Linked DNA regions of Homo sapiens: region 1 is reported to be linked to region 2. The links are microRNA targets in miRTarBase. Many come from high-throughput screens and were not tested one by one. Region 2 holds a microRNA gene; the other region holds the end of a gene's coding sequence.

Evidence for each region. The annotated mature microRNA hsa-miR-4684-5p reads CUCUCUACUGACUUGCAACAUA and lies in region 2 at 1,058-1,079, opposite strand. An mRNA with a match to its seed (bases 2 to 7 or 8) in the 3' UTR can be bound and repressed. Matches are read on the target gene's strand: a 7mer-m8 pairs with bases 2 to 8, a 7mer-A1 pairs with bases 2 to 7 and ends in A, and an 8mer does both.
Region 1: the mRNA of DNAJC24 is a reported target of hsa-miR-4684-5p. Seed matches in the 3' UTR shown: 7mer-A1 at 517-523 and 7mer-m8 at 1,165-1,171.

The regions. Positions count from the first base shown.
Region 1 is chr11:31,430,037-31,434,036 of GRCh38, forward strand. DNAJC24 (DnaJ heat shock protein family (Hsp40) member C24) reads left to right here. Exons shown (of 5, transcript NM_181706.5): 5 at 235-2,799. The coding sequence ends at 365. It overlaps IMMP1L (inner mitochondrial membrane peptidase subunit 1), which reads right to left. Exons shown (of 6, transcript NM_001304274.2): 5 at 3,424-3,534; 6 at 2,365-2,532. The coding sequence ends at 2,464. Among named protein-coding and RNA genes, the nearest start is that of DNAJC24, 62 kb to the left of the region's middle.
Region 2 is chr1:22,716,609-22,720,608 of GRCh38, reverse strand. MIR4684 (microRNA 4684) reads right to left here and starts at 1,092; the gene lies at 1,011-1,092. The region is part of intron 1 of EPHB2 (EPH receptor B2); the gene reads right to left. RefSeq lists an enhancer at 2,756-3,445.

The DNA of each region.
Region 1 (4,000 bases), not on the chromosome of region 2:
TTTTAATTCATAGCTTCAACCCATCTCCTCTACAGAGAAAGATTCTTTGGTAGATAATTTTTAGAAACACTGCCCCTTTCAAGAAATCCAGTTCTCCTTTAAATACATTTTATCTTTACTGAGCTTCTTTGTTTTGTTTTACAATTCCTATGGAATAAACTCTGCACCTTTTAAGGGTATTAGTGAGGTAGTTACTTACAAGTCTTTGAAAGATTATTTTGTTTTCTTTTGCAGGTGATCACTCTTTTTATCTGAGTTGCAGATGTGGTGGAAAATACAGTGTTTCCAAGGATGAAGCGGAAGAAGTTAGCCTGATTTCTTGTGATACATGTTCACTAATTATAGAACTCCTTCATTATAACTAAAATTGTTCACAACTTGAAATGCTTTAACTGTGGTATTGAGACATGATGAGAAGCCGTTGAGCTTTGTCCATTCAAGGAAATGGATTATTTGTCAGCCCGATTATTTGCAAAGAAAATATACAATTATCAAGCAGAGACCACCTCAGATTAATAGAGAATGAATATAATTATTTATTTGTATTTATAATTTATATTTACAAGTTGTCACAAAAATAGATTTGATTATATTTGGTGAATTCCCATCTGAGAACTTTATTATGTCATTTTTTTCCATGACACAAAATAAGAATTTTCTTAATATGAGCATGTCTCCTCTTTTCAGTGGGTAACAGTATCATCATATTCCTTTATAGTTACTAAGTTTCTGGTCTAACCGATAACGTTTCTAGTTGCTAAAGTTATGGGGCTGTTGTACACCTAGAATCTTTGTGAATAATGTGAGGCCAGTTCTTCCATAAGGAAGGCTGGTTATGGATATTCATAAGGTTATTTCAAAGTTAATAAAGACAAAGTGGCAACTGTAGAAAGTGTTGCCTCCAATCTTGGTCCGTATTTCCAAAGCTTGTAAACACTGCCATCTTCAAATTTAAATGTAATTTAGGAAATGGAAGCTTTTAATTTTAATTTCTTTTTTCTAAGACAGAGTCTCACTCTGTCGCGCCAGCTGGAGTGCAGTGCCATGATCTCAGGTCGCTGTAACCTCCGTCTCCTGGGTTCAAGTGATTCTCCAGCCTCAGCCTCCCGAATAGCTGGGATTACACGTGCCCACCACCATGCCCAGCTAATTTTTGTATTTTTAGTAGAGATGGGGTTCCACCATGTTGGCCAGGCTGGTCTCAAACTCCTGACCTCAGGTGATCCACCTGCCTCGACCTCCCAAAGTGCTAGGATTACAGGTTTGAGCCACCGTGCCTGGCCTAAGTTTTGTTAATAGAGATGGGATTTCATCATGTTGGCTAGGCTGGTCTTGAACTCCTGGCCTCAAATGATCCGCCCACCTCAACCTCCCAAAGTGCTGGGATTGCAGGCGTGAGCCACCATGCCTGGCCAGAAGCTTTTTTAAAAATAATGACTTGGAAGTTGGTGCATTATTTCCCCTTTTATTTTGGAGTGTTGATATAATATTGGGGCCAGGCATGGTGGCTCACATCTGTAATCCCAGCACTTTGGGAGACTAAGGCAGGCGGATCACCTTTGGTCAGGAGTTCAAGACCACCCTGGCCAACATGGTGAAACCCCATATCTACTAAAAATAATTTTTTTAAAAATTAGCCAGTCACGTTGGTGTCTGCCTGTGGTCCCAGCTACTCGGGAGGCTGAGGCACAAGAATCACTTGAACCCAGGAGGCAGAGTGAGCCGAGGTTGTGCCACTGCACTGCAGCCTGGGCTACAGAGAGCAAGACTCTGTCTCAAAAAAAATAAAATAAAATAAATAAAAAAAGATATAGTATTAATGCCTGTATTTATGAAGACAGGGCCATTGCACTGCTGCTATGCTGAAATGAACTTTTATAAAGTATTATTGACTATAGCCAACTACAGATGGCATATGCCTTAAAGATGCATTTTTCTATGTATTTAATATTTTGTGTACAGTAAAAGTCAGAACTCATTTAAAGAACTTTAAGGGATCCTTTAGAAACATTTTTACTTAATTTCAAATGAGTGGGCTGAGCATGTAGACTAGCAGCTTTTTATCAAACCTGGCATTGTCAGGTTGAACTTATAAATACGAATAGTTACTACTCTGACTTGTAAATGTAGCTGCTAAAGTATGAGGTATATTTAAGAAGAATAGATTAGTTTCATTATACCTATAAGAACAAGAATTCAAAAGTGAGGTAGTCATCCAGGTTCCCCCTCCCACAATATTTTTGTATCATAAAATTTAGATGACTTTTTTGGGTTACATTTTTATCCATATATTTTGAACTAACAGAACTTGGCAGAATGTGTGTTGAATATTCTTTACATTTAACAATTAAAAACAACTAAAACTGAATAGCAAATAGTTTATTGGTAAGTACACGGTTTCAACGGGAGTAATAAATTCACATGAAAAGGAGACAATAATCAAGTCAAAAGAATAAATGCTTACTAATCATCAGAAAATCTGTGGCCATTAGGGCTGGCACGTAAAAATCCAAAATCACTCAGAGGCCAAATCTGTAAAATCAAAATGAGGTTGAAGACAATTAGTGAAAGTAATGTTATAGTATCATCATATTCCCTTTTGCTATCTGTCCCTTTTCTCTATGCCAGATAAACACTTTCTCCTTACTCATCAATCAAGAATAAAATTTTCTACATCAAAGTAAGACTTGAGAAAATAAACTTATGTGTATATATGTTTAAACTCCAAAGTTTGGGACATTCAAACAATGTACATGAAATTATATGTGTGTGGTGTGTGAATAAATATGTATGAATATATGGTCTGTGTTTTCTTTTACTACTTGCAAGTAAGAGTTAACTGTGTACTTTCAACCAAAGGGGCTTAGGTTTAAGTACTTGAATATGGCATCTGTTTTAAATGTAAAGAATCCTGTAAATTATCCAACAGCTCCATGTATTCATGAATGTTTTTCTCCTCACTGATTGTGATAAAAAGGAGGGGCCAGTGAAAACAATCTTCCCTAATAATCATACATTCACAATAAGTCTGTGACTCACAGTACTCAACTGGGGTATCCCTACTTTACAGGTAGTTTGAATCTAGACTGTTCTTCTGCACATGCTTATTAAAATATGCCCTGGGCAGGATGTGAACATGGTTTTAAGAGTTGTACAAGAGAGAACTGAACTTTTGGAAATTCAAATTAAAGTTTTCTTAGGCTATAGCTAAGGTAGTTTGGATTTTATTATTATCTCTATGGGAGCAGGGGCAATGGGGGAATAGGTTTGCATATGGCTATTAAGTTAAGGCCAACAGGTTCAAAAAATATATTCGGTGCAACAGTTAAGTACACTGACAGCTTGAAGATTTCAGAGATCATTTTGAGAGAAACTTTTTCTAGCTCAGAAAATAAACCTTACATTTTAAGCAGAAAATGGTACCTTAAAGAAGATTCGTCCTCTTATTAGTCCATATGGAATAGGTCCATAGCACCTGGAATCTGTAGAATTCTGTAGATTGTCACCTTCTAACCAAACATGACCCATTGGCACCTAGAATTAGAGAAGAAATGCAGCCTCTTAAAGATAAAACCTAATTTGGGTACTATAATTAAAAAGCATGTCATTCAGAGGTAGGGAGAAATGTCCTAAGGCTCTCTTTTATAGAATAGATACAAATCCTAATATTGCATTTTTGCTTTTATTTCTTGCACAATAACTTTTACTAAATATCAAAGGTTTCAACTTTTTTAAAAACCTATCATCTTTTTTTGTCATATGGTTCCCAAATATTAATTTGTTATACAAACCCCAAACTGAGGTTATAAGAGATCAAAATAGTGTGACAGGGTCATTAATTTAATAGACTTCAAAAGAGGTCATTAGGATGCTGACTGAAAATGCGCCCTTGTGTCTCAATAACAGTATAAGCAGGGCAGCCACTCACTCAGCAACATCCTGGGGCCAATACCAAAGCCAAACCTATTAGAATGCTCATGATGAACTAAATGGTAATTGA
Region 2 (4,000 bases):
GATAAACTACCTGTGAGAGGCTGTCTCCAAATATGGCTGCCAACAATTCCTCCCCCTACTAAACACGAAGCCACTCCTCCCAGTAAGGGGGCGTCTAGATTCAAGTTTGGACCACAGGTTGGCCCAAGAAACATGGACAACAACAGGGTGCAGGGGCGGGCACTGAACTCTGAGTGTCACCTGATTCAGTGGGTCAGGACATGTTGAGTGGGACGCTGGATAACCCACCATTAAATTTTCCATGCTGAACAGCTGAGCAAGAAATGGGACTTCTCTTCAAGGATAAAACAAAAAAATCAAGCCCAGTATATTTTCCTTTTCCTTGAACCTGATGAGGAAGCCTGGGATGAATCTGAGCTGGTGTTGTGACTGGCTTTGACCACCACAGAAGGCTGCAGGGGTGACACTTTGTGACATTAGAGCCCAGCCCTTAAGAAGCCTTGCAGTTTCCATTTCACCATCTTGGGAGCTAATTGCCATGGATAGAGGCGCAGTCTAGACTAGCAAAGGATGGGAGATAGCGAGGAGCGTAGGGGGACCAGCCTTCCAGCCTTCTCTATGAGGGCCTCAAAGATGTATGTGAAGCCACGATGGAATTTCCAGCCCAACCTAGCTGAGTGCAGCCTCCTGAGTGATCCCAACTGACAACCCGGGGAACAGAATAAGCACCCAGCTGAGCCCAGCCAATCCACTGAATCAGGACAACTAAGAAATCATTATTGTTTTAAGCCAGTAGGTTTTGTGGTGGCTTGCTAAAGATAAGTGATATGCTTTTCAGGAGTGGAGTCCTGTACTTTTTGTAGCTCTCCCTTCCCTTGCCTGAACCCCTGAACCCTGGCAATGGGCACTGAATCCTGGAGCTGGAAGAGGCCTCCAAAATCACTGAGTCTCACCCCTGTCATTTTATAGAAGAGAGAGCTGAGGCTCGGGAAGCCATGCAATTGACTCCAGGTCACACAGGGTAACAGGGGCAGATCCAGGAGGCAAACTCAAGCCCTTACAGGGGTTGAGCACCAAGGGTACGTCTCCACCGACTTGCAACACACCAAGACAAATGTATGTTGCAAGTCAGTAGAGAGGTACCCCTGGTGCTCACACATTCTGTCTTAAGAGGCAGTCACTCCAGCCAACTGTGGCCATGTGGGAATGTGGGCCCTGTGAAACCAGATTGTCTGACTTTTCAGAAACGCCAGAAACAGGACTTTTCTGTAAAATCTCTTGATTTTCAAATGTTGGCTAAGAATTTGAACTGGATAGATGAGCTATTAAGATTGGCCCTGGGCTTCAAGCTTGGTCCCGCTGCTGGCTTTGGGCGAGTCATATTATCTCCCAGACCTCAGTTTCCTCATCTCTAAAGTGGGCCCCGTGGCTCCTGCCCCTTTCAGGATGGCTGTGAAGGCCTGATGAGCTATTGTATTTGGAAGTACAAGCTGCAAATGGCCCTGTGACTGTTTCGTAGTCTCCATTCTCTGTGGAGGCGCCCCTTACAACATAATGAGTTAACACCCGATTTGTCTAAGTTAGAACAACATTATTCTGACCATTATCACAGAGATTGCATTTTTATGGCAGGTTTGTGAGTTGTAGAACCCTCCCATTGCATTATCTCAGGATGTTGATGGAGCTGGAAGCTGGACAGCTGCCTTAGAGACCCTCATCAGAGCCAAGCCTTTCCTCTGAGCAGGGAGGCACATTCTAGAAGTGGAGAAGAGCATGAGCTCTGGAGTCACCAGACTTGGGTTTCAATCGCTGCCTCACCACTCCCTAGGTGTCCTTGGGCCAGTCACTCCTCTCAGAGCTTTGGTTTTCTCATCTGTAAAATGGGCACAATAATACAACGACCTGTGGGGCTCTTGGGGCAACTGCACAAGGCAACACACATAATGCTGTTAGTACAATGTCTGGCACAAGAATTGACAGCTGCTGGGCGCGGTGGCTCACACCTGTAATCCCAGCACTTTGGGAGGCCGAGGCAGGTGGATCGCCTGAGGTCAGAGTTCGAGACCAGCCTGACCAACATAGTGAAACCCCATCTCTACTAAAATATACAAAAAATTAGCCGGGCATGGTGGCAGGCATCTGTAATCCCAGCTACTCAGGGAGGCTGAGGCAGGAAAATCTCTTGAACCCGGGAGGCAGAGGTTGCAGTGAGCCGAGATTGCACCACTGCAGTCCAGCCTGGGCAACAAGAGCAATACTCTGTCTCAAAAAAAAAAAAAAAAAAAAAAAGAATTGACAGCCATTCCCATGATCATGGCAGGGAAGGTGGTGCCTGGCAGGCACTGGGCAAAGAAGGAGGGTACAGCCATGAAGGAGTCTACCCCTTTCCCAGATTAGGGAGGCTGAATTGGAGTGGGGAGGGGGCCTTTGAGAAAACCTGGATGGTACCCTGAGTGGGCAGGCTGGAGGGGCCTCTCAGCTACTTGGCAAGCCAGTCAGACCCTTGCCCTGTAAGGCTCAGAACACAGTGGGTGGGGGAGAGCTGGAGATGAAAAACCTGGTACACTGGCCCCCTGTTCCCCTACTGTGAATTGAGCTTCCCATTGGTAGAAAGCAAGGATAGCAACCGTTCACATTTATTGCAAGCTTAGCACACCTGAGGCACACACTCAGCTTAGTCTTCCTCAGATTAACACATCCATTGCTCACAACCATCTCAAGAGCTAGGAACAATGATTACCCCCATTTGAAAGATGAGGAAACCAAGGCTCAGAGAGGTGAAAACACAAGCCAGAGGACACACAGTACGGAGCAGTCTGACTCCACACACATTTCCTGTAACCCCCAGGCTCTGCTGTTTATAGAACAGGAGAGAAAGTGATCAGGGCTAAGCAAAGCCTCTGTAGGACTTCAGAGAAAGGGACAAGTCATTCTGGCCAGGGGCACGAGGGTGCTGCTGACATTTAATGGTTACGGAAACTAATAAAGAATGGACACAGCTGAGTGCCAGGCAGTTCTGCCAGTCATGGTACACAGCATCTCACTGAATCCTCGCCATGAGCCTCTGACACATGCGCGGTATTCTCCAGTTTCCAGATGAGGAAGCTGAGGCTCAGAGAGTGGATCACTTGGTCAAGGCCACACAGCAGGCAAGGTCCCCTCTTCTGAGGACACTCCCACCCCACAGGGGCTGCAGCAGGGGGGCAGATGGCTCCAGGAAGCTCACCTAGTGAGGGTGTCCTAGGCAAGCCCCCAGATGACACGGGGGTACTGGGGAGACAGGTGTCCCCCTCCTGCACCCTCCGGAAGGCAGCTGCTTTAAAAGGCCCTAAAATGCTTTCAAGGCAGCCTTATCAGAAGGCCTGAGCTGATCCCAATCAGGGAGCCTCCAGGTGCTGCCACAATCAACAACTGCCTGGCCTGCTGCCCCACCCCTGGGAGCTGTGCAAACATTCTTTCCTTCCCTGCCTTCCCCCAGCTAACCCTCTTTTTATGCACGAGCCAGCGGCAGCCAGGGCTGGTGGGCGCTAACTCTGATTGATTTCACTTCATTTCAGTCTTTTCCAGTTTCCTGCTGAGGTTTCTCTTCCTCTTTCCCAGGAGTCCTGTGTTTTATCATAGGCCGCTGGGGGGCAAATTTGCCTGCCTAATGGAAAGACCTGGAGAGTATGTTAAAAATACAGACTCCCCAACCTTGTTCCCCATCTCCCAGATCTCCAGCTAAGTCAGGCATGCAGGTGCCAGGTCAGGAGACGGGTCCTTGGTCGGAGGTGTGGAAGATCCTCCCGTCAGGAGGCCCACCGTGCTCTGCATCTCCGCCACCCTCAGTGGGAGCATGGGTCCCCTGCCTTGCCCAGCCCAGGCATCCTGTCACCAGCAGGCTCCATCTGCCCCTTCCTGTTAGGGGCCTTTCTATGTGCAGAGGTCCAGTCTCCAGTCTAAACTCACAGGTGAGCTCTGGGCAGGCAGAGTTGACCAGAGGCTACCACGGGCTGAATGCCCAGCAAACTGGCCCATAGAATCTGTCCCAGGCAGGGCACAGTGGCTCAGGCCTGTAATC